Linked DNA regions of Homo sapiens. The protein of the gene in region 2 purifies or fractionates together with the protein of the main gene of each other region. This does not show direct contact. Each region holds a gene or a part of one and is shown on either strand. Other genes may lie near its edges.

The links.
Region 1: the proteins of USE1 (region 2) and SCFD1 purify together in Homo sapiens (affinity purification with mass spectrometry; 5 studies listed by BioGRID and IntAct, with this or other methods). This does not show direct contact.
Region 3: the proteins of USE1 (region 2) and BNIP1 purify together in Homo sapiens (co-immunoprecipitation; 6 studies listed by BioGRID and IntAct, with this or other methods). This does not show direct contact.

Annotation. Positions count from the first base shown.
Region 1 is NC_000014.9:30,730,307-30,737,852, forward strand, and holds the end of SCFD1 (sec1 family domain-containing protein 1), read left to right. Parts: intron 1-4,483; coding exon 4,484-4,552; intron 4,553-5,279; coding exon 5,280-5,303; 3' UTR 5,304-5,544; downstream 5,545-7,546. UniProt on the Homo sapiens protein: Plays a role in SNARE-pin assembly and Golgi-to-ER retrograde transport via its interaction with COG4. Involved in vesicular transport between the endoplasmic reticulum and the Golgi.
Region 2 is NC_000019.10:17,209,443-17,220,092, forward strand, and holds USE1 (vesicle transport protein USE1), read left to right. Parts: upstream 1-5,914; 5' UTR 5,915-5,963; coding exon 5,964-6,065; intron 6,066-6,359; coding exon 6,360-6,409; intron 6,410-6,549; coding exon 6,550-6,628; intron 6,629-6,726; coding exon 6,727-6,879; intron 6,880-8,010; coding exon 8,011-8,020; intron 8,021-8,921; coding exon 8,922-8,949; intron 8,950-9,770; coding exon 9,771-9,945; intron 9,946-10,188; coding exon 10,189-10,371; 3' UTR 10,372-10,387; downstream 10,388-10,650. Other genes in the region: MYO9B (unconventional myosin-IXb), read left to right, coding at 144-267, 891-938, 1,273-1,406, 2,205-2,332, 2,453-2,868.
Region 3 is NC_000005.10:173,161,519-173,166,389, forward strand, and holds the end of BNIP1 (vesicle transport protein SEC20), read left to right. Parts: intron 1-554; coding exon of another isoform or gene 555-627; intron 628-793; coding exon of another isoform or gene 794-806; exon of another isoform or gene 807-842; intron 843-2,206; coding exon 2,207-2,403; 3' UTR 2,404-2,869; downstream 2,870-4,871. UniProt on the Homo sapiens protein: As part of a SNARE complex may be involved in endoplasmic reticulum membranes fusion and be required for the maintenance of endoplasmic reticulum organization. Also plays a role in apoptosis.

The sequences.
Region 1 (7,546 bases), on a different chromosome or scaffold from region 2:
CGCAATAAACATACCTGTGCATGTGTCTTTATAGCAGCATGATTTATAATCCTTTGGGTATATACCCAGTAATGGGATGGCTGGGTCAAATGGTATTTCTAGTTCTACATCCTTGAGGAATCGCCACACTGTCTTCCCCAATGGTTGAACTAGTTTACAGTCCCACCAACAGTGTAAAAGTGTTCCTATTTCTCCACATCCTCTCCAGCACCTGTTGTTCCCTGACTTTTTAATGATTGCCATTCTAACTGGTGTGAGATGTATCTCATTGTGGTTTTGATTTGCATTTCTCTGATGGCCAGTGATGATGAGCACTTTTTCATGTGTCTGTTGGCTGCATAAATGTCTTCTTTTTAGAAGTATCTGTTCATATCCTTCGCCCACTTTTTGATGGGGTTGCTTTTTTCTTGTAAAGTTGAGTTCTTTGTAGATTCTGGATATTAGCCCTTTGTCAGATGAGTAGATTGCAAAAATTTTCTCCCATTCTTTAGGTTGCCTGTTCACTCTGATGGTAGTTTCTTTTGCTGTGCAGAAGCTCCTTAGTTTAGTTAGATCCCATTTGTCAATTTTGGCTTTTGTTGCCATTGCTTTTGGTGTTTTAGACATGAAGTCCTTGCCCATGTCTATGTCCTGAATGGTATTGCCTAGGTTTTCTTCTAGGGTTTTTATGGTTTTAGGTCTAACATTTAAGTCTTTAATCCATCTTGAATTAATTTTTGTATAGGGTGTAAGGAAGGGATCCAGTTTCAGCTTTCTACATATGGCTAGCCAGTTTTCCCAGCACCATTTATTAAATAGGGAACCCATTCCCCATTTCTTGTTTTTGTCAGGTTTGTCAAAGATCAGATGGTTGTAGATGTGTGGTATTATATCTGAGGGCTCTGTTCTGTTCCACTGGTCTATATCTCTGTTTTGGTACCAGTACCATGCTGTTTTGGTTACTGTAGCCTTGTAGTATAGTTTGAAGTCAGGTAGTGTGATGCCTCCAGCTTTGTTCTTTTTGCTTAGGATTGACTTGGCAATGCAGGCTCTTTTTTGGTTCCATATGAACTTTAAAGTAGTTTTTTCCAATTCTGTGAAGAAAGTCATTGGTAGCTTGATGGGGATGGCATTGAATCTATAAATTACCTTGGGCAGTATGGCCATTTTCAGGATAATTGATTCTTCCTATCCATGGGCATGGAATGTTCTTCCATTTGTTTGTGTCCTCTTTTACTTCGTTGAGCAGTGGTTTGTAGTTCTCCTTGAAGAGGTCCTTCACATCCCTTGTAAGTTGGATTCCTAGGTATTTTATTCTCTTTGAAGCAATTGTGAATGGGAGTTCACTCATGATTTGGCTCTCTGTTTGTCTATTATTGATGTTTGGGAATGCTTGTGATTTTTGCACATTGATTTTTGTATCCTGAGACTTTGCTGAAGTTGCTTATCTGCTTAAGGAGATTTTGGGCTGAGATAATGGGGTTTTCTAGATATACAATCATGTCATCTGCAAACAGGGACAATTTGACTTCCTCTTTTCCTAATTGAATACCCTGTATTTCTTTCTCCTGCCTGATTGCCCTGGCCAGAACTTCCAACACTATGTTGAATAGGAGAGGTGAGAGAGGGCATCCCTGTCTTGTGCCAGTTTTCAAAGGGAATGCTTCCAGTTTTTGCCCATTCAGTATGATATTGGCTGTGGGCTTGTCATAAATAGCTCTTATTATTTTGAGATACGTCCCATCAATACCTAATTCATTGAGAGTTTTTAGCATGAAGGGCTGTTGAATTTTGTCAAAGACAAAAGGCATTTTCTTAAGTTCATTTTTGGATTCCTCATTCCAAGTGCATAAAAATCCAACCGATTTTTATGTTGATCTTACGTTTCACAGCCTTGCTGAGTTTATTAGTTCCAATTGTTTTTAATGGATTTTTAGAAGTTTCTATATACAAGATCATGTTATCTATTAATAGAGATAGTTTTGCTTCTTTTCTATCTTCTGCAACTGCCCTGGCTAGAACCTTCAGTACATTGTTGAATAGAAGAGGCAAGAGCAGACATCCTTGTCTTCTTTCTCATCATACGGGCAAAGCATCTAGTCTTTGACCATTATATATTTTATTACATTATTCATAGATGCCCTTTAGATCCATTAAATTTTTAGTAGCTACTAAGCTCCCCAGTTTATTGTCCTGAGAGGATTTTTAAATCCCTTTTAGTTTTTTTGTCCTGAATAATCCTAATCTTTTCCCTACCATTCAGCCCTATTAAGAAGGAACTGAGCTAGGTCTATGACAGCCTTCCTCACATCATTAGAAACCTGTGTCAGTACAGTCTCGTAGTATGAAACTAAACATGCGACTATGCCTACATGAGACTGGCAATACAGAATTAACTAACATGGCCCTTGGTTTATACTAGTCCACAACATAAGGGGCAAGTGCCAGAAAATACTGCTGTAATTCTGATTTATTTAGTAATGTTGTTAATCTAACTCACAATGTAAATGCTATTTGGTATAACTTTGGTATAATTGGTAAAAAATAATTTGACTGATTTTATCAAAACATTTGATAATACTAATATTGATGAATTGGGAACTTGACTTAAAACCACAAGGTATTCTCTTGATGGAAGGTGATTGGTTAGAGAAAGAACTACACTGAGTTAATTTTACATTGAATCAATATACTGGTACATTTTATAAAGTTCGATTTTTTTTTCTTTTTTTTTTTTTGAGACAGAGTCTCATTCTCTCACCCAGGCTGGAGTGCAGTGGCGCAGTCTTGGCTCACTGCAACCTCTGCCTCCCGAGTTCAATCAATCAGTTCTCCTGCCTTAGCCTCCTGGGTAGCTGGGATTACAGGCATGCGCCACCACACCTGGCTAATTTTTGTATTTTTAGTAGAGATGGGGTTTCACCATGCTGGCCAGGCTGGTCTCGAACTCCTGACCTTGTGATCCACTTGCCTCGGCCTCCCAAAGTGCTGAGATTACAGGCATGAGCCACTGCGCCCAGCCCATAAAGTTCAATTTTTAACTGACAGAGTAAGTAAAGGGGTCATCAAGCTTGTACATGATTAAGAACAAGTTTGCACTGGAATGTTTGGTAAACTACAGTGTTTCTTTAAAATTACACCTACACTTCATTGGATGGCTAAAAACGATTAGAAAAGAATGATGATGAGTAATTTGGTTAAGAAAGCTTGGTCCAGGGTGGGGACTGTACAAGTCAGGATTAATCTCAACTGGGCTACTGTACCCCTGTGCTTATCTCCAAGAATACCAGGATCCATGGTGCTGATGTTTAGCCAAACCTGAATGAAGTATTAACTAGTGATGAATTCTGGGCCTGGGCTAGAGACTACGATAAACCAGGGGGCAACCTTGGGCTGGCTTGCCAGCATTGTTTAATAGAAAATGTAAAGATTGATTTTACATTTTTCACCTGGTTTCTGTCATGTTCCCTTGGTTTCTGCAGTTGAGCCTGGTCATGCTGGTCATGCAGCCCAATTTTGCCTACCTGACCAGAGAGGCATAAAAGACCTCTCCTTGAACAAGAATCAGGTTCTCCTGGGAGCTATGCCTAGAAGTTCTGGACCCCTCTAATGTTTCCCTGTGCCTGCTTTCTCCTTGCATACTGTGACCTCTACCTTTAATTAATGCCTGTTAGCCACAAGAATCCCAATTATATGACCCATATACCATCTCATTTTGAAAAAAATATGAGTTGTGGCTTTTGTTTTATTTATTCTCAGAGATGGCCATCTAGGACATGTATTCAGCCAACAATATTTGCTCAGCTTATACATCACAGAGTTGTGTTACAAAGCCATCATTCCTCTGTCCTTTGATGAATCCTCAAATTACTTTGTTCTAGAATAAACTTTTTTATATTACAAAAGAAATCTCATGAATTTACCTTCAGGTTCACGATACATACAAGAAATTAGCAAATCGCTAATAGAGAAGTTTTGGCTGTTGTGATTGGGTTCCAACATTGTAACTGTGACTTTTATTCCTGATGTTGACAATGTGGAATGAGATGTATTAACTTATAAATACTGTGTTGCTCAAGTGAGACTAAAAGCACAATCCATGCCACCTGCACCATAGCCCACTTTCAGCATAAAGAAACTCGAATGTATTCTTCAAGTAGTACACATCCTACATTGGAAGAATGTTGTTCTAAGATTTTATAGGTAACTGTTGCTCCTGTGAAATTTGACAGTGAGATTCCTTCTATTTTTAGTGTAATAGGAAATGGCACCAATAGTATGCCATAGTATATATTTTGGGGGACAAAAATACTATGCTCATTTCACCACTTTATTCCTCTTTATTTCATGCAATTTTAGGTAGATGTGTATACTAAAATCCAACAGTATCCCAAAGAAAGACTGTTAAGAATAACAAAAAAACTAGCATATTAATCTCTTTTCTTGGGAATATTGAATATATTTCTTGTTACTTGTATCTAAGTTCTGACTCTGATTTTTACAGGGGAAACAAGGCAAACACATTTTATATGGCTGCAGTGAGCTTTTTAATGCTACACAGTTCATAAAACAGGTAAAGTATACATTTGTTGTTTGTTTCTGTTAACATACCCCTAGTTGCTATTGGTATTTTTCAAAAGAGAGAAAGAAAACCACTTACTCACCTGAACCAGCCGAAACCAAAGCCATCCAGCTATACCAAGATAAGGTGTTTTCATGGACGACTAAGAAAACCTTGATAAGTAATAATGTTTCCAGTAGGAGTTTGCCCATCCTTCCAGAACTGAAAGCCTTTTCTTTGGCTTTTAATGATCCTTTAGAAATACAAAAATATATGAGAACTGTCAGTAGTGTGTCACTCATGACATTTCTCTTTATATTGTCACAAAGTTAGCACTAATTTTTTTAATTCCCAGGGTTTTTCTTTTCCATCAATTGAACGTTACCTAATAATGTTTACATTTCTTTACTATGACGACGTTTATTGCAATTCCATTTTCTTTTCTTTTTCTTGGTAGAGACAGTCTCTTGCTATGTTGCCAAGGCTGGTCTCAAACTCCTGGCCTCAAGTGATCCTCCCACCTCAGCCTCCCAAATAGCTAGGATTACAGGCATGAGCCACCATGACCAGCCTTCAGTTTTAACATTTGAGTTAGTGGTGAACATTAAGATTTATTATTCTAGGAATGCAGTGAATAAAATAGGAAGTGTAATTTATTAAGGGGTTTACAAATATGTTTGAATGTTTCTTTTATGATCTTTTTTAAAAGTTTTATGTATGATTTTGTGTTTTGTTTTAGTTGTCACAACTTGGACAAAAGTAACACAGAAGAACCTTACTATGATAATCTACTTGGAATGTGGATAAATGTAAAAAGAAGAAAAGTTAGAAGAGCAATATGTTTCCTTCTCTGTAACAGTGTCCTAACAGTGAAAATCAGAGTTATTTGTTAATTTTTAAGGAAATTATATACTTAATATGTATTGATTAAAAGAAACATTTCAGAAATAAAATTTCAACATTGTTCATTTTCTCTGATAAATCAGAAAGTACTAATATAATAACTAATAGGTTATGATTGAAGCTGGTGACATTTTAAGGTTATCATATTTAAATTTTATTTGATTGGTTCGTGAGTCCCCTACTTGTATGCATTTTAATTATACAACTACTTTCTCATAGTTTGTTGGGTATCCATGTTGCCTATAGATTTTAGATGGAGATTTTAAGCCACTTTAAGTTCCCTTCTTCTGGCACACCTATGTATATTTTATCACATAAAGTCCCTCCTTCATGTAATGGTGATCAAGGCAACACTAACATGATTTGGAATGGACAAATACAAAACAGTCATCTCATAAAGTTGTAAATAATACGTAAAAGTTAGTGTTAAACTTGATTCCAAGCTTCTTTGGTATGCAGTACTGACAAGAAGTATTGATCAGTCATACCGTTCAGTACGTCTGTAAGATAAAAAGCAAGCCAATTGCTTGAAAGGGAAGAAAAATAAACACTTCCTATTATAAAGGCCAGGGAGCCTTCCCTCCTAATGAGCCTCATATCAACAGGAATCTGTAATGTTACTGACAATACATACAAGATTCACAGGTCAAGAAAAATAATTCTAGATAGGTAGGGGTCTGTTAATCTGACTGACTTATTCCTGAGACAAAAGTGTGTGGTGGAATGGAAGGACTGAGAATACATCAAGCAGTTTTTGTAAGTAACATAAGTAACGTTTATCCTATGCAGCCAGCTAGTTAAAGTCATATCCCTAAAAAAGGATCCTAGAAAGAACACAATCCCCAAACAGTAAGCCTCTCTACCTCACTGGGGTATGAGCTGAAAGAAAGAATCTCTAGTCAGGGTCCAGATTATATTTTTTTAACTTAATACAGACACAAGTAATCAGGGTACTAAAGTTTGATGACACCAGTAATTATAGCCTAGAAAAAAATGTTATAGCAAATGTAATCAAATACTAACCTTGGCTGTTAAAAAAAAGCACTGTGGAAATGTGTTCAGGACAAACACAAAATGGCAGAGAATAGCTCACACCAAATACGATATTTCCTCTCTTAGTGCCAGCAATGTGCATCACCCATTTACTTTATTCAGTGTTCATCAAGCTTGCAAAACTTTTACACTGCTCCTGACAGTGTACTAATAGTATTTGAAATGTAATTTCAGGACTTTCCCTGCACATTAATTTGTTTAAATGTTGTTATACTGAGTCTTTGAGACATAAATATAAATATTCCACACATAAACATGAAAAATCTCTCTCTTCAAGCAATAAATTATGACATAGGGCTAGAGAGGAAAAAAAGATGAAATTTAGGTATAAAATTCAAGATCCTTTCTATAAAGAAAACACTGGGCCGGGCCCGGTGGCTAATGCCTGTAATCCCAGCACTTTGGGAGGCCAAGGCGGGCAGATTGCCTGAGGTCAGGAGTTCGAGACCAGCCTGGCCAACATGGTGAAATCCTGTCTCCACTAAAAATACAAAAATTAGCTGGACGTGGTGGCAGGCACCTGTAATCCCAGCTACTCAGGAGGCTGAGACAAGAGAATCTGTTGAACCTGGGAGATGGAGGTTGCAATGAGCCAAGATCACACCACTGCACTCCAGCCTGGGCTGCAAGAGCAAAACTCTGTCTCAAAAAAAAAGAAAAAAAGAAAACATTAACTGGAGAAAGATTTAGTGAGCGTACAGATATAAAAGATGTTAGAAAATACTTAAAGGATAGAAAAATATAAAAGCATATTTGAAAAAAACTAGAAGTTAAAAATAAAATACCTAAAATTTAACTCAGTGGATAGTTTAGCAACAGATGAAATGTGACTAAGAAGAAAATCTGAACCAGAAGATGGAGCAAAAGAAATTATCTGCAATGTAACACAAAGAGATAATGGAAGCAAAGGAAAATAAAATAGATGAATAATGGGAAGGTCAACCAGACTGGGCAACAAAGGGAGCCCCCCACGCCTACAAAAAATAAAATTACCCGGGCTTGGTGGCACGTGCCTGTGGTCCCAGCACTCCAGCCTGGGAAACAGCAAGA
Region 2 (10,650 bases):
GAGCTGGCACAGCCGTGTCCCAGGCACTGCTTGGTCTCTGAGCCTCAACCACTGCCCCCCAGGCACCAGCTAGCATCTCCCTGGACCTCAGACGTCCCCGGGGCGGTAACTGAGTCACTTCCTCCCGTGGGCCTTCTCTGTAGGTGCGTGGAGATGCTGATCAAGGAGCAGATGAGGAAATACAAAGTGAAGATGGAGGAGATCAGCCAACTGGAGGCTGCAGAGAGTATCGCCTTCCGCAGGCTTTCGCTCCTGCGACAAAATGCTGTGAGTACCGGTGATCGTGGGGGCGGGACCTCTTTGGTGGGGCGGAGCCTGGTGCTGGGCAGGGCCTTGGGCGTGGCTTTGTTGCTGGGAAGGCTGGTGAGTGGGGTCTTGGTGGGCGGGGCCTTGGGTGGGCAGGACCTCCCATGCCGAGGATGGGACCGGGTAGTGGGTGTGGTCTCGGGTAGCAGGGCGGGGCCTCCCTTCCCAGTTCCCCGCCCACTCCTACCACACCCTTGGCCACAACCAGCCTGGCTGGGGCCACCAGGCCCTGCAGGTAGGGGCAGACTTACTGCCTTGAACGAAAGACGATGGTCCTCGCTCAGCCTCACTCCAATTATGTTCCTCTAGGTGGGGCAGGTAGGGGGACCAGCTTCCTGCTTGCTGGTGGTTCAGGTCATGCGTCCAGCCTTGTCCCTTCTGACCTGGGCCCTACCCACGGGGAAATGTTCCCATAGCAGAAGAATCAGCCCCACAGTGCAGGGGTGTGTTAGTGGGGAACGGGCTCTGGGCTCCTGTGGGAACCAGGGACCCCCTATCTTGGTACCGGTCATTGGATGTATCCCCAGCTCATGCCTGTGTCTGTCTTGGCCCGTGTGGTCACCCTGTGTTCATCTCTCTCCCAGCCATGGCCTCTCAAACTGGGGTTTTCGTCTCCCTATGAGGGGGTCCTGGTATGTACGCGTTCGGTGGGCCCGCGGTGCATGTCTCCCGGTGCAGTGCATGCTGGGGTTCCCTGGGGCCCTGGGCCCCTCGTAGGATAGACAGAGCCTGTCCTAACCTTCCGGAAGTGCATGCTGGGGAGGCCCCTTGCCTGCTGACCTTCTGTGCTCAGGACGACTAATCGGCCACATGACCACCACTCTGTCCCATGGGATTCCTAGAGAAGTCTCACTAAGAGCCCAGCACACTCACATCACAACTAACCTCCTGGGATCTGCTCACACCTCCGGCAGTAACCTCGCCCACTCAGAGATGTCAGTGGGACCCCTTGCTTCTTTGTTTCAGAACAAGAGCCCCAAGACCCGGGACATCCAGGAGGAGGAGCTGGAGGTGCTGCTGGAGGAGGAGGCAGCCGGCGGCGATGAGGACCGGGAAAAGGAGATTCTCATTGAACGGATCCAGTCCATCAAGGAGGAGAAGCAAGTGGCTCAGTCCCCTCCCTCAGTCCTTCATGTTTAGGGCAAGCTGGAGTGCAGGTTCCATCCCTGGTGGTCCGCTTGACCTCGCCAGGTTTGGTCCTGTCATCCCTAACACTGGGCAAACAACACTTTTTTTTTTTTTTTTTTTTTTTTTGAGACGGCGTCTCGCTCTGTCGCCCAGCTGGAGTGCAGTGGTGCTATCTCGGCTCACTGCAACCTCCATCTCCCGGGTTCAAGCGATTCTCTGCCTCAGCCTCCGAGTAGCTGGGATTACAGGTGCCCACCACCATGCCCTGCTAATTTTGTGTTTTTAATAGAGACAGGGTTTCACCACATTGGCCAGGCTGGTCTTGAACTCCTGACCTCAAGTGATCCACCCACCTTGGCCTCCCAAAGTGTTGGGATTACAGGCGTGAGCCACCGCACTCGGCCTTTATTTCTGAGACAGGGTCTTTCTCTGTCACCCAGGCTGGATTGCAGTGGTGCGATCACGGTTCACTGCAGCCACAATCCCCTAGGCTCACGGGGTCCTCCCACCTCAGCCTCCCCAGTAGCCGGAACCACAGGTGGTGCACACCACCACGCCTGGCTAATTTTTTTTACTTTTTGCAGAACAGGGTCCGCCTATGTTGCCCAGGCTGGGTTCAAACTCCTGGGCTCAAGCAATCCTCCTGCTTGGGGTGGGGGGAGGTTGGGGACACAGAGTTACATCTAGGAGCAGGACAGCCTGCTCTGTTCCACACTGGCCCAGCACTTCCGGTGGGGTGGCCTTGGACACCACTACCCTTTTTCCTCCAGGGAGGACATCACCTACCGGCTGCCGGAGCTGGACCCAAGGGGCTCGGACGAGGAGAACCTGGACTCGGAGACGTCGGCCAGCACCGAGAGCCTGCTGGAGGAGCGGGCCGGGCGGGGGGCCTCGGAAGGTCAGTATTAAGGTAGCGTCTGCTTTTCTCCTTCCCGTCCATCCCAGCAGGCCCCAGGGCGAGGGTCCTCCGGCTGCCGGCCCTGAAGCTGCAGTAACCCTGCCATCTGTCTCTCAAAAGGGCCCCCTGCGCCTGCTCTCCCTTGCCCCGGCGCGCCCACCCCGAGCCCCCTCCCCACCGTGGCCGCCCCTCCACGACGAAGGCCGTCGTCCTTCGTAACGGTCAGAGTGAAGACCCCCCGGCGGACCCCCATCATGCCCACGGCCAACATCAAGCTCCCACCAGGCCTGCCCTCCCACCTGCCTCGCTGGGCACCGGGTGCCCGGGAGGCGGCTGCCCCAGTGCGGCGCCGGGAGCCACCTGCCCGCCGCCCGGACCAGATACATTCCGTGTACATCACGCCCGGGGCAGACCTGCCAGTGCAGGGCGCCCTGGAGCCCCTAGAAGAGGATGGCCAGCCACCTGGGGCCAAGCGGAGGTACTCGGATCCCCCAACGTACTGCCTGCCCCCCGCCTCGGGCCAGACCAATGGCTGAGAGCCACAGCTGACAAAGTCTGCATGTCCGAGGACGGCCCCTGCACTGGAGCTGGGCGCCAGAGCTGCAGAGCTAGTGTTCGGCCCTCAGAGAAGGATCCAGAATCAAAAGCTCAAGAGTGACGTGAGGTGGGCACCGGCCCCAAGTGCAGAGTCAAGGCAGGGAGAGGCCGGCTGGAGCCAGGCCCCCTCGCACGCAGCCCCCAAATCATGGACGCACCTGTGGGGAGCACCACATCTCCACCTGCGGCCTCACATCTCCCCACTCCCCTTTTTGTACGTTTAACTGTTTCTTTGTACGTGGTTTACGTAACTTTAAACTGTAACAGCCTTAATGGAAGACCAAATGGTTTTTTATATGTGTATGTACAAAGTTTTCTATTAACGCTGCCCGTCTCCCTTATAACCTGGACGTGAGCTGTCAGAGCAGAAGCCACTAGGCCACTGCGCGTCTGAGGCTCAGACCCTGCTGTGGTTGGCTTGGGGTGGCCAATGGGCTGGGACCCTCCATGAGAGTTTTGGACACTTGGGTCACCTGACCCGTGCCTCTCTGACACATGTCTCCGGGGGGCAGCCACCTGGCCAATGTGCATTTTTGCACATGCTGGAACCTTCCATGGGGGTCTGGGCTATTGGCTGGAGCCAGGACATGAGTCAGGGGCACCATGGACCTCACGTGCCAGGGAGACTTGAATGTGGCTGTCACTCTTCCGGACGCCAAGGGCTGCAGGAGGCTGCTTTTGGCACTACCCACCCCGTGTGACAGAATAGGAGCCAGCGACTCAGGACTGCTCACGGGTCAGGAGGGCAACGCCTGAAGTCAGACCTCCCTATAGGTCAACAGGGACAACCTGGGGATCTCTGGAGCAGGGCCCTCCTCTCTCAGGCTTGGCCCACTCCCCCAGACACCTGGACACGTGGCCACAAATCTGGGACAAGGGGCCCCCGCACAGCATGAAATAAAAAGTGCCTGAGAAGTGTGTGCATGGGACGCCTGCTCATATGGGATCGGGCTTGGAAGAACAGGGCCGGTGGGTGGGGGTCTGCCCTGTGGCCTCAGCCAAGAAGGGTGCAGAATATGGGTGGAACACTGTCCTCAAAGTTCTGTCTTGATCCTCCACCAAACAGGGAGCTCCCAGCAGAGCCTCACTTGGCCAGGAGCGCCTGCTGTCCTGGCAGCCCTCTCTGGCCTCCCTGATTCAGTGCCCAGCCTCTGGAGCCTAAATGTCAGCTGCAGCAGCCACCCATCCAGCAGAGGTGGCCAGTTCCTGGTGGGCCCAGCAGGACAGGAACAGATGGGCTCCCAGGCTGCCATCGGATGGGAGTCGTGGGAACTGGCTGGCTGGTATTGGTTGGGGCACCGTGAAGAACCCAAGTTCAGACAGCACATGCCAGAGGTTGAGGGGCTTCTCCAAGGCCACACAGTTGGGAGGGGCATGGCTGGGATTTAGACTCTGCCCTGCCAGCCTCTAGAGGCCCCTTTGATGGGCCCTGGGTTTGGTCTCCATTGTTTGTTGTGGGTTTTTTTCTTGAAACACGGTCTCGCTCTGTCACCCAGGCTGGAGTGCAGTGGCGCGATCTCGGCCCACTGCAGCCTCCACCTCTCGGGTTCAAGCGATTCTCCTGCCTCAGCCTCCCGAGTAGCTGGGATTACAGGCACGCACAACCAAGCCCAGCTAATTTTTGTGTTTTTTGATAGAGACAGGGTTTCACCATGTTGGCCAGGCTGCTCTCCAAACTCCTGACCTCCAGTGATCCATCCACCTCACCCTCCCAAAGTGCTGGGATTACAGGCGTGAGCCACCGCACCTGGCCCTCCATGGTATTTTCTTTTTTTTTTTTTTTTTTTGAGACGGAGTCTTGCTTTGTTGCCCAAGCTGGAGTGCAGTGGCACAATCTCGGCTCACTGCAACATCCACCTCCTGGGTTCAAGCGATTCTCCTGCCTCAGTCTCCCAAGTAGCTGGGATTACAGGCACCCACCATCACGCCCGGCTAATTTTTGTATTTTTAGTAGAGACGGGGTTTCACCATGTTGGCCAGGCTGGTCTCAAACTCCTGACCTCAGGTGATCCATCTGCCTCAGCCTCCCTAAGTGCTGGGATTACAGGTGTGAGCCACCGCACCTACCCGTCTATGATATTTTTCAAGGACATCAGGCCCACTGGTGTAACCAAGGTGCAGATGACCTAAGGTGTGGGAAAACATGAAGGCTGCATGCCAGGCCCTGGTTCCTGTGAAGCCCCCACCCTCATCCTGTCACTCCAGAAGAGAGGCACTGCAAGGCATAGGGGTACTCAGCTTCCAGGTACTGAGGTGGGCTGGGAAGGGGTTCTCCATGGGGGTCTGGGCGTTAGGGGGGACCCAGCCCCACCTTGCTCACTCTCAGGCAGAGCTGTCTCATGTGCCCCTTGAGGCAGGTACTGTCACACTGTCCATTTCCCGGGGGAAGAAGCGGATCCAGAAAAGTTAAACTCTCCCAGGGCCGAGGATGGAATCAGAGCTGGAGCTGTGACCTGGAAACCCATAACCACAATACAGATGAGCCCTGCTGAGGTGGGGGAAGCCTTGGATTCCTGAATCCCAGGCTACAGAAATCGGGAAGGGTGTGTGGACGTGAAATAGCTCCGACTGGGAAGAATCCAGGTAGGAGTGGGGTGCGGGGAGGTACTTTGAGCAGGCAAAACAGAACAAAAGGGCACACTGCACGCGGGTCTGACACCAGAAGACCCCGGTCGTCCTATCATTCCCGAAGGGTTAACATGCTCTCGAGGAAAAGCAAGTGATTCGCCTAAGTAAGAATGGGGTGGCGCCTCTCCTATTTTTTTAAAATAGAGATAGAGTAGCGCTATCTTGCCCGGGCTGGCCTCAAGCAATCCTTTCCCACCTCTGCCTCCTAAAATGCTGGCATTACAGCCCTGAGCCACCGCGCCCGGCCCAGCGCCCCGTCTCAAAACAAGATATTACTTCCGCTCCAAACAAAGATGGGCCAGCTAACGAGCGCGGGGGAAACATCCGCCCGGAAGGCCACTTGAAGGCACTTCCGCCCTCTCTTAACATGGAGCCGGCGGAAGGGGTGGTGTAGGGCCGGGCGATAATGGCGGCGTCGAGGCTGGAGCTAAACCTGGTGCGGCTGCTATCCCGCTGCGAGGCGATGGCAGCGGAGAAACGGGACCCGGACGAGTGGCGCCTGGAGAAGGTGAGGGGATCTCGCACTGCCGCGTAGAGCCCGACTCCCGGGGGGTGATTCCTAGGGTTGGAAGCCACCTGGCCCGACTCCCCGGCCCCAGTAGCCTCTCGGGCAGCGCCCTTTCCGGTCAGTCCCGCCACGTCCACCTGTAGCTTCCGCCCCCGTCCCTGGGACTCCGCCCCTCCCCCACTGGCCCCGCCTCCTTTACGCTTGACCCCTCCCATTTGTCGGCCCCGCCCCCCCGACTCCCATGATCAGGACATGGGAAAGACCCCCGGGTGACAATCCACTTTTCCTCCCCAGTACGTGGGAGCCCTAGAGGACATGTTGCAGGCCCTGAAGGTCCACGCGAGGTGAGTGCAGGCAGCCTCAGGGCTTTCACATCAGCACGTGGCTGTGCTACTGGACATCCCAGTACCGCTATCCCAGCTGGGACCCTTCCCTGAGCTGGGGACCATGGACAGGTTTTGTTTTTCTTCTTCCTGCCTTCCAGCAAACCGGCCTCTGAGGTGATCAATGAATATTCCTGGAAGGTGGATTTTCTGAAGGGGATGCTGCAAGCCGAGAAGCTGGTGAGAAGGGGTGCCCCTGCCCCCTCAGCCCCCATCACCGCTCACTTTGGTCCCCAGGACCTGCCCCTCCAGTGACTTATCTTCCCACATTTCTGCAGACCTCCTCCTCAGAGAAAGCACTGGCCAACCAGTTCCTGGCCCCTGGCCGTGTGCCAACCACAGCCAGAGAGCGAGTGCCCGCCACAAAGACGGTGCATCTGCAGTCACGGGCGCGGTACACCAGCGAGATGCGGAGTGAGCTACTAGGCACGGTAGGGCTCCTTCCCTGGTCCCTGGGAATCCCTTGGACAGGAATAGGGGTTCTATGCTTGTAGGCAGCCAGAACCACAATACTGTCAGATACAGGAACCCTAAGGGGGTCCAGCAATCTCTTCCCTGGGTCATCACACAAGGCTGCCCAACAGAGGGGCATTGTGGCTAAGGCTTTGCTAGATGAATAGGAATTTGGTACAAGGCAAAAATGGAATGTGTCTGGTTAAGCCCCAGAGTTGGCCCAAGAGCAGGGTTTGAGTCCTGGCTTGCAACTTACAAGACACATAAGTTTCTTCAGCCGTAAAAGAGGATGACAAGTTCCTTTCTGAGCACTTTATGTGGATCAGCTCAATCTTTTAAAATATGAGTTGTTGTGGCCAGGTGCGGCAGCTCACGCCTGTAATCCCAGCACTTTGGGAGGCCGAGGCGGGCGGATCATTTGAGGTCAGGAGTTAAGACCAGCCTGACCAACATGGAGAAACCCCGTCTTTAGTAAAAATACAAAATTAGCTGGGCATGGTGGCTCACGCCTGTAATCCCAGCTACTCGGGAGGCTGAGGCAGGAGAATCGCTTGAACCCAGGAGGCAGAGGTTGCGGTGAGCTGAGATCAAGCCATTGCACTCCAGCCTGGGCAATAAGAGTGAAACTCCGTCTCAAAAAAAAAAAATATGAGTTGTCGTTACCAGTTTAAGGTTGAGGAAACAGGCTCAGAGGTCATGGGATTTCCCCATGTCCTGACTGAAGGTGAGGAGGTTGAGGTCAGAAGGGACAGGTTTGGGAACAAGACAAGGGGGGTGACTTCATGGCATTTACTTTTTTTTTTTTTTTTGCGATGGAGATTCGCTCTTGTTGCCCAGGCTAGAGTGTGGTGGCGCGATCTCGGCTCACTGCAACCTCCGCCTCCCAGGTTCAAGCAATACTCCTGCCTCAGCCTCCCAAGTCACTAGGATCACAGGCACCCCCACCACACCTGGCTAACTTTTTGTATTTTTAGTAGAGATGGAATTTCATTATGTTGGCCAGGCTGGTCTCGAACTTCTGACCTCAGGTGATCTGCCCACCTTGGCCTCCCAAAGTGCTGGGAGTGAGCCACTGCACCCAGCCTCATGCCACTTACTTCTTTCCACAGGACTCTGCAGGTGAGTCACCATGAACACAACAGGACTTGAGGGCCAGCTGACTAGGACAAGACATGTATCCTTGCTGCCCCGGGGCCTCCATGCCGAGACTCCATGCCCTGACTCCAACAGGAGCATCACCAAACTACACCTGGAGGAAGAGCCAGGACAGAGGAAATGGCCCCGAGAGGAAACAAAGCTAGGCACAGTGGCTCACACCTGTAATTTCGGAGGCTGAGGCAGGTGGATCACCTGAGGTCAGGAGTTTGAGACCAACCTGGCCAACATGACAAAACCATGTCTCTACTAAAAATACAAAACTTAGCCGGATGCAGTGCCACGTGTCTGTAGTCCCAGCTACTCGGGAGGCTGAGGCAGGAGAATTGCTTGAACCCAGGAGGTGGAGGTTGCAATGAGCTGAGATCACACCACTGCACTCCAGCCGGGGCGACAGAGCAAGACTCCGTCTCAAAAAAAAAAAAAGCAAAAAAATTAGCCAGGCGTGGTGACGCACACCTGTAGTCCCAGCATACTTGGGAGGCTGAGGCAGGAGGATTGCTTGAGCCTGGGAGGTAGAGGTTGCAGTGAGCTGAGATTGCGCCAGTGCACTCCAGCCTAGTTGACAGAGAGAGACTCTGTCTCAAAAATAAGCAAATAAATAAATTTTTTAAAGCTAGGCACTCCCAGCCTATGGGACCAAGGCTAGGCTGGAGGGAGGGACCTGGGGTCTGAGGGAACCGAGACAGGAGTAAGGAGACCCTCCTAGAAGAGGGGGTATTCAAGCATGGTCAGAAGCCAACGGGGCAGCAGACAAGATGAGGAAACAGCATTCCAAGCAGTAGACCCAGCACAGGCAATGCTCAGGATGCCGGAAACGGGAAACCAACACTCGCCTTTTTTGCTTGGCCTGTTTTGCTTTCAGAGCCTGAGATGGACGTAAGGAAGAGAACGTGAGTGTCTGCGGCCCTGGGGCAGTAGTGGCAATTGGGCGGTGCGGCAGGGACGGGGTAGCAGTGGCCAAACCCTGGACCACCGAGGCACTACCACAAGGATCTAAACCAACCAGAAGCCACTTCTGTGGATGCTCTTCCCAGAAGTCAAAGGCCAGGCGCAGTGGCTCACGCCTGTAATCCCAATACTTTGGGAGGCTGAGGCAGGCAGATCACCTGAGGCCAGGAGTTCAAGACCAGTCTGGCCAACATGGCAAAACCCTGTCTCTACTAAAAATACAAAAAATTAGCCGGGCATGGTGGCATGCGCCTGTAGTCCCAGCTACTCAGGAGGCTGAGGCAGGAGAACTGCTTGAACCTGGGAGGTGGAGGTTACAGTGAGCCGAGATCACGCCATTGCACTCCAGCCTGGGTGACAGAGCGAGATGCTGTCTCAAAAAAAAAAAAAAAAAAAAGGTCGGGCGCGGTGGCTCACGCCTGTAATCCCAGCACTTTGGGAGGCCGAGGCAGGTGGATCACGAGGTCAGGGGTTCGAGACCACCCTGACCAACATGGTGAAACCCTGTCTCTACTAAAAATACAAAAATTAGCTGTGCATGGTGGCAGGTGCCTGTAATCCCAGCTACTCAGGAGACTGAGGCAGGAGAATTGCTTGAACCTGGGAGGCAGAGGTTGCAGTGAGCCGAGATCATGCCACTGCACTCCAGCCTGGGCAACAGAACGAGACTCTGTATCAAAAAAAAAAAAAAAGAAAATGTGTTGGTCTTCTCCCCTTTCCCACTCCATCTCTCATGTCCTCCTCCCCCCGTGTGTGAAATCAGTGGAGTGGCAGGGTCCCAGCCAGTGAGTGAGAAGCAGTTGGCAGCTGAGCTAGACCTCGTCCTGCAGCGACATCAGAACCTCCAGGAAAAGCTGGCGGAAGAGATGCTAGGACTGGCCCGGAGCCTCAAGACCAATACCCTGGCCGCCCAGAGTGTCATCAAGAAGGACAACCAGGTGTGGGGACTGGGGGAGCTCTCCAGCCTCTGCCCTGGGGCATCAGAGAAGGCTTCCCAGCACAGGAGCATTGTGGCTGGGGCTTTGCGGGATGAATAGGAGTTTCGTAGAAGGCAAAAATGGCATTCCCAGCAGAGGGCACAGCACCAGCAAGCGACAAGAGGTGCAGGCCAGTCCCAGGGAAGTAGAGAGAGGCCATTCTTGGCCCCAGTCCTGTTGACACCTTTTCCACCTCCCCCACAGACCCTGTCACACTCACTGAAAATGGCGGACCAGAACCTGGAGAAACTGAAGACGGAGTCAGAGCGTCTGGAGCAGCACACGCAGAAGTCAGTCAACTGGCTGCTCTGGGCCATGCTCATTATCGTCTGCTTCATCTTCATTAGCATGATCCTCTTCATTCGAATCATGCCTAAACTCAAATAAAGACCCCCGCCCACCTTGTCTGTCTTCCGTCTGTCCCCTGCCCCCATCTAGCAGTGCCTTTCAGGCTGGCCAATGAGATGGGAGGGTTTTTGGAGGTCCCTGAAGAGCCACAGACAGACAGTGCATGAGCAGGGGAAGAACCACCTCAGGGCCAGATGCGGGGGCTCACGCCTGGAATCCCAGCACTTTGGGAGTCCAAGGCAGGTGGATCACTTGAGGCCAGGAGTTCAAGACCAGCCTGGCCAACATGGTGAAACCCCGTCTCTACCAAAAAATACA
Region 3 (4,871 bases), on a different chromosome or scaffold from region 2:
GGTGGCTTCTGGGGTGTTGAGAGGGTCCCGGTGTTCTTGGGGCCCATTTTGTACAAGCGATAACTATTGAAGAAAAGAGAAGAATACAGTTCTTAACCCTTTCCTTATGCCTCACAAATTCAGCTTGATTTAAAAGCCTACTAGGACCATAATTTTAAAACAAAAAGCTTATTAGGAATATGGTGTCTGGAATTTGCTCCACAATTGCAGGAGTAGTTGCAGTTGGGGGGAGGGGGAGCAGGATTTCAGAGGTTGGTGGTTCTTGGTTATGGGTGGTGGACACATGGCATTTCATGATATTATGCTGTCTGCTCTGTGATGGTTCAAAATTCTCCGTAATAATAAAGTTTAAAAAGAAAGGCCTATTAGATTTTTACTTAGCAAGATCTCAGGGTTTTGAAATCGCAGCAGGCAGGCGTGGAGAAAGCAGGCGGAGAGGGATTCCTGTTCTGTGAGTGTTTGTTTTTCTCCTTTTATCTGTCATTTTCAAAACGCTGCTGTGTTTCCTCTGATAATTTATCCTATTTACTTATTAGCTTTTAATTTTTAAAAAGGTAACACATACAGCATAGAGAAGGATAAGAAAACTCTAGCCCAGGACTGCCATAGAAACGCAACAGCAGCCACGTATGTAACTTTAAATTTTCCAGTAGGCACATGTTAAAAAGTAAAAAGAAACATAAGAAATTAATTTTAGTAAGATGTTTATTTAACCCATTATGTAAAATATTATAATTTCAATGTAAAACTAATATTAAAAACTATTGAGATATTTTACATTCCTTTTTCTTAGATTAAGTCTTTGAAACATCGTGTGGATTTTGGCCAGGCGCGGTGGCTCATGCCGGTAATCCCAGCACTTTGGGAGGCCAAGGCGGGCAGATCACTTGAGGTCAGGAGTTCGAGACCAGCCTGACCAACATGTTGAAACCCTGTCTCTACTAAAAATACAAAAAGAAAATTAGCTGGGCGTGGTGGTGCATGCCTGTAGTCCCAGCTACTGGGGAGGCTGAGGCAGGAGAATCATTTGAACCTGGGAGGTGGAGGTTGTGATGAGCCAAGATCACGCCACTGCACTCCAGCCTGGGTGACAGAGTGAGACTGCATCTCAAAAAAAAAAAGAAAAGAAACATTGTGTGGGTTTGACACTTACATCTCCTGACATCTCCATTTGCATTAGCCACGTTTTTCTATGCACAGCAGCCTCGCATGTCTAGGGGCTGCCATATTGGTCAGCACAGCTCTGGAGAGTACAAAAGGGACACAAAAAAGATCACTCTCTGTTCTGACCTCCAGCTGACCCCTACCTGCCAGCCCTCTGGTCCACTTCCCAGAGGCAACCTCTGTAACCAGTGTCTTAAAAAATATCTTGTGATCCTCCAAGCTTTTGTAACTTAAGCAAATGAAATACCATTTATCTCCCTGTTTCTTACCTAAATGGAAACATTTCACAGGCGTTCCTTTATACTTTCCCTTTTCACTTAATGTGTTCTATTCAATGGCTGTTCTGATGATGCCTTGCTATGTTTTGTGGGAGAACCTCGCCAGGTACACCTTCTACCCTCAGCGTCAGGCCCAGATACCCATATTCAGAAATACATCTGACTCTGGGGACAGTGATTCCTTAAGGGACGTGGGCCTCTTCTTAGGTGTCACCTCCTTAAAGCTACAGCCAGTATCCCTGGCCTGAGGGACTGGTATGTGTGAGGGCTTACGGCAGAGCCCGGGACACCCTTGCCCTTTTGAGATCCTGCAAAGTGCCGGTCTGGCCAGCAGATGTCCTGGAGGCCGCACCTCATAGGTGGAAGGTTCTGGTGCATTTGGCTGCTGCCCCAACACAGACCTCACAGTGCCTGCCCACGATCCCTGGGTTGATTTTGTGGCTGGTGGTTTCCCTGAGCAGCGTCCATCTGCTTCAGAGAGCTGAGGAGGTGGCTGGGTGAGCAAGCCTCTTCTGCCCTTCTCCCTGGTGACGCTCATGTTCAAGGACTCCCAGACAAACCCCCCCTCACTCTCTGGAGCTGATGGGACCTGGGGAGGAGCCTTTCCTTGTCAGCTCCTTGGCTGGTCTCCACATGCTTTGATTCCAGCTCAGAGGAACTCACTTGAGAATGCTGGTTTTTATCAGCACCCCAGCCAGCAGAGTGAGGTCTTTGGATCTTGAGCTGCAGTCTCTGAGTTGGGCCTCCTTCCTCTTTTGTTTCAGTCACTTCTTCACGAACGATCCTGGATGCAAATGAAGAATTTAAGTCCATGTCGGGCACCATCCAGCTGGGCCGGAAGCTTATCACAAAATACAATCGCCGGGAGCTGACGGACAAGCTTCTCATCTTCCTTGCGCTAGCCCTGTTTCTTGCTACGGTCCTCTATATTGTGAAAAAGCGGCTCTTTCCATTTTTGTGAGATCCCAAAGGTGCCAGTTCTGGCCCTTTCAGCTCCTGTTTCAGGATCTGTCCTGGTTCCTGAGCTCTAGGCTGCTAAGCTGAGCCACACACCCCTCCGTTTGCACCAGTTGCCTGCAGGTTGGATGGAACACAGTGCCCCACTTTTCTGCAAGTAGCTGGCTTGTAAAGGGTGAACAGAGCCATGGGAGGAAGGTCTGGCATTGGGATGCCGCCCTGGGGACATACGAACCGCCTCCTTCCACCATTGTGCACTATGGGAGGCCGCTGCTGCGTGGAGCACTTAAAGTCCAGCCTCCAGGACCGGATGCCCCTCCTGTCTCCCGCTCCCATCGTGCCCTTAAATGCCAGATCTGGTGGAGGGAAGAGAGAAGAGGTAGGAAGAAAGGTGATGAAAACTCCTGGTCATTCCTTGAATAAACTTGATTTTATTTAATAGAATAAAATGTATTTGATTTTGTAAGATAGCCCTCTGGGAATGTGTGTTCCTCTTTTCTTTTTTCTTTTTTTTTGAGATGGAGACTTGCTCTATCATCCAGGCAGGAGTGCAATGGCGCAATCTTGGCTCACTGCAGCCTCTGCCTCCTGGGTTCAAAAGATTCTCTTGCCTCAGCCTCCCAAGTAGCTAGGATTACAGGCACACACCACCATACCCAGCTAATTTTTGTATTTTTTTAGTAGAGATGGGGTTTCTCCATGTTGGCCAGGCTGCTGTCGAACACCTGACCTCAGGTGATCCACCCATCTTGGCCTCCCAAAGTGCTGGGATTACAGGTGTGAGCCACCATGCCCAGCCCTCTTTTCTTGATGTCCAGATTTTTAGGACATGAACCTAGATTATTTATTTATTCATTCATTCAACAACGAATTAGCATTGTTATTTTCTTTCTGTCCCCACCCAACAACAAGGAACTATTAAACAGCTGCCACACACAGGGTGTTATAGACGCTGCTGAACATGACAAATACATTGGTGAACCAGACATGGTTCCTCCCTCAAGGAGGAACAGAAGGAGACACGGAAATAAAATCTCACAGACTATCAGGAAGGAGGGTCCAACAGCCCCTGTTCAACCAGGTGTGGTGGCTGATACCTCTAATCCCAGCATTTTGGGAGGCTGAGGCAGGATGATCACTTGAGCCCAGGAGTTCAAGACCAGCTAGACAACATAGCAAGACCCTGTCTGTATTTAAAAAAAAAAAACAAAAAAACAGAAACAGAACAGAAAACAGCCCTTGTTGGAAGTGGCTCACACCAACATCTGAAAAGGCTGCAATGCCATTCTCTACCACAGCAGCCTGGCCAGGCCTGGGGGTGTGCAGTGATTCGGGCTGGCACATGCCTTTCTCTCTGATGTCCAGAGCTAAGTATAACCAAGGAGGGAGAAGCTAGTGAGAAGCTGAGACTGTGTGAGCCTGAGTTCTGTCCAGGCCAGAGGGAGAGGGCCCAGGCTAGGCCAGTCCTAGAGGTGCTGTGTCTTTTGTGCTGCAGGCCTGGCTGACCTCAAGCTTGAAATCCCAGCCTCCCCCACTATTTATAGCCCCAGAGGACCTGGGAAGGGCAGTGTGGAGGCTGAAGGGAAAGTGGGAAGAACATGGACTTTGATCCTTGGCTCAAACACTTGGTTTTGAGATTTGGCTCCACTGCTAATGGACCACAGGACCATTGGCAAGTTACTTTATGTTGCTAAGCCTCAGTTTTCCTATCTGTAAAATGGAGGTGATAATCCATATGGGTCCTCATAGAGTCAACTTGAGAATCCAATGAGAATATAAAGCAGCAAGTGTAGCTAGCTGTCTTCAGACCAGGCCTGCCATGGCCTTTCCAAATGCTGCCACCCCCTGGGCCCTGGGCACTGAGGTTTCCTGCAGCTGACAGCAGCGGTGCTTCAGGAAAAGCTGGGCCAGGCACCAGCATTCTGTTAGAGGTGTTTGAGCAGAGGATGTCAAGAGTTAAGGCCTCAGTTATAAAGTGGCAGATCATCATGGGACCAAGTTATAAAAAACTAGCTGCACATCTCAGACCAGCTTAATGAGTGGATTCCAAGTTAAAGTGTGGATCTAAGTATAGATCCACACTGTGTACACACACACACACACACACACACACACACACATAATTTTGTAGGCTGTATATCATCCTTAAACAATTCCTGGCCCCAAAAGACACTCGGTGCAGATTGTGCACACATGTGTCTTATTTATAGTCAAATTAAAGCTGAGAATAAAGCACAGATGGGAAATTCCCACTCAGATTCCAGCTGTAAGTGCAGCAGATGGATGTTATCAAGTTCAGATTTTCTTGTCTTAACATTTTTCTTTACTGCTTCCCACTAATTGTCAACATCCTCCTCACAATATGGAATTGCGTGGGCTCTGTATGCCCTAAAATTGCTCCCTTTGACACTTTATTCCTCTTTTACTTGCCTCCTCCTGAAAATAGAGTTGAATGTGACCCATTTTGAAATG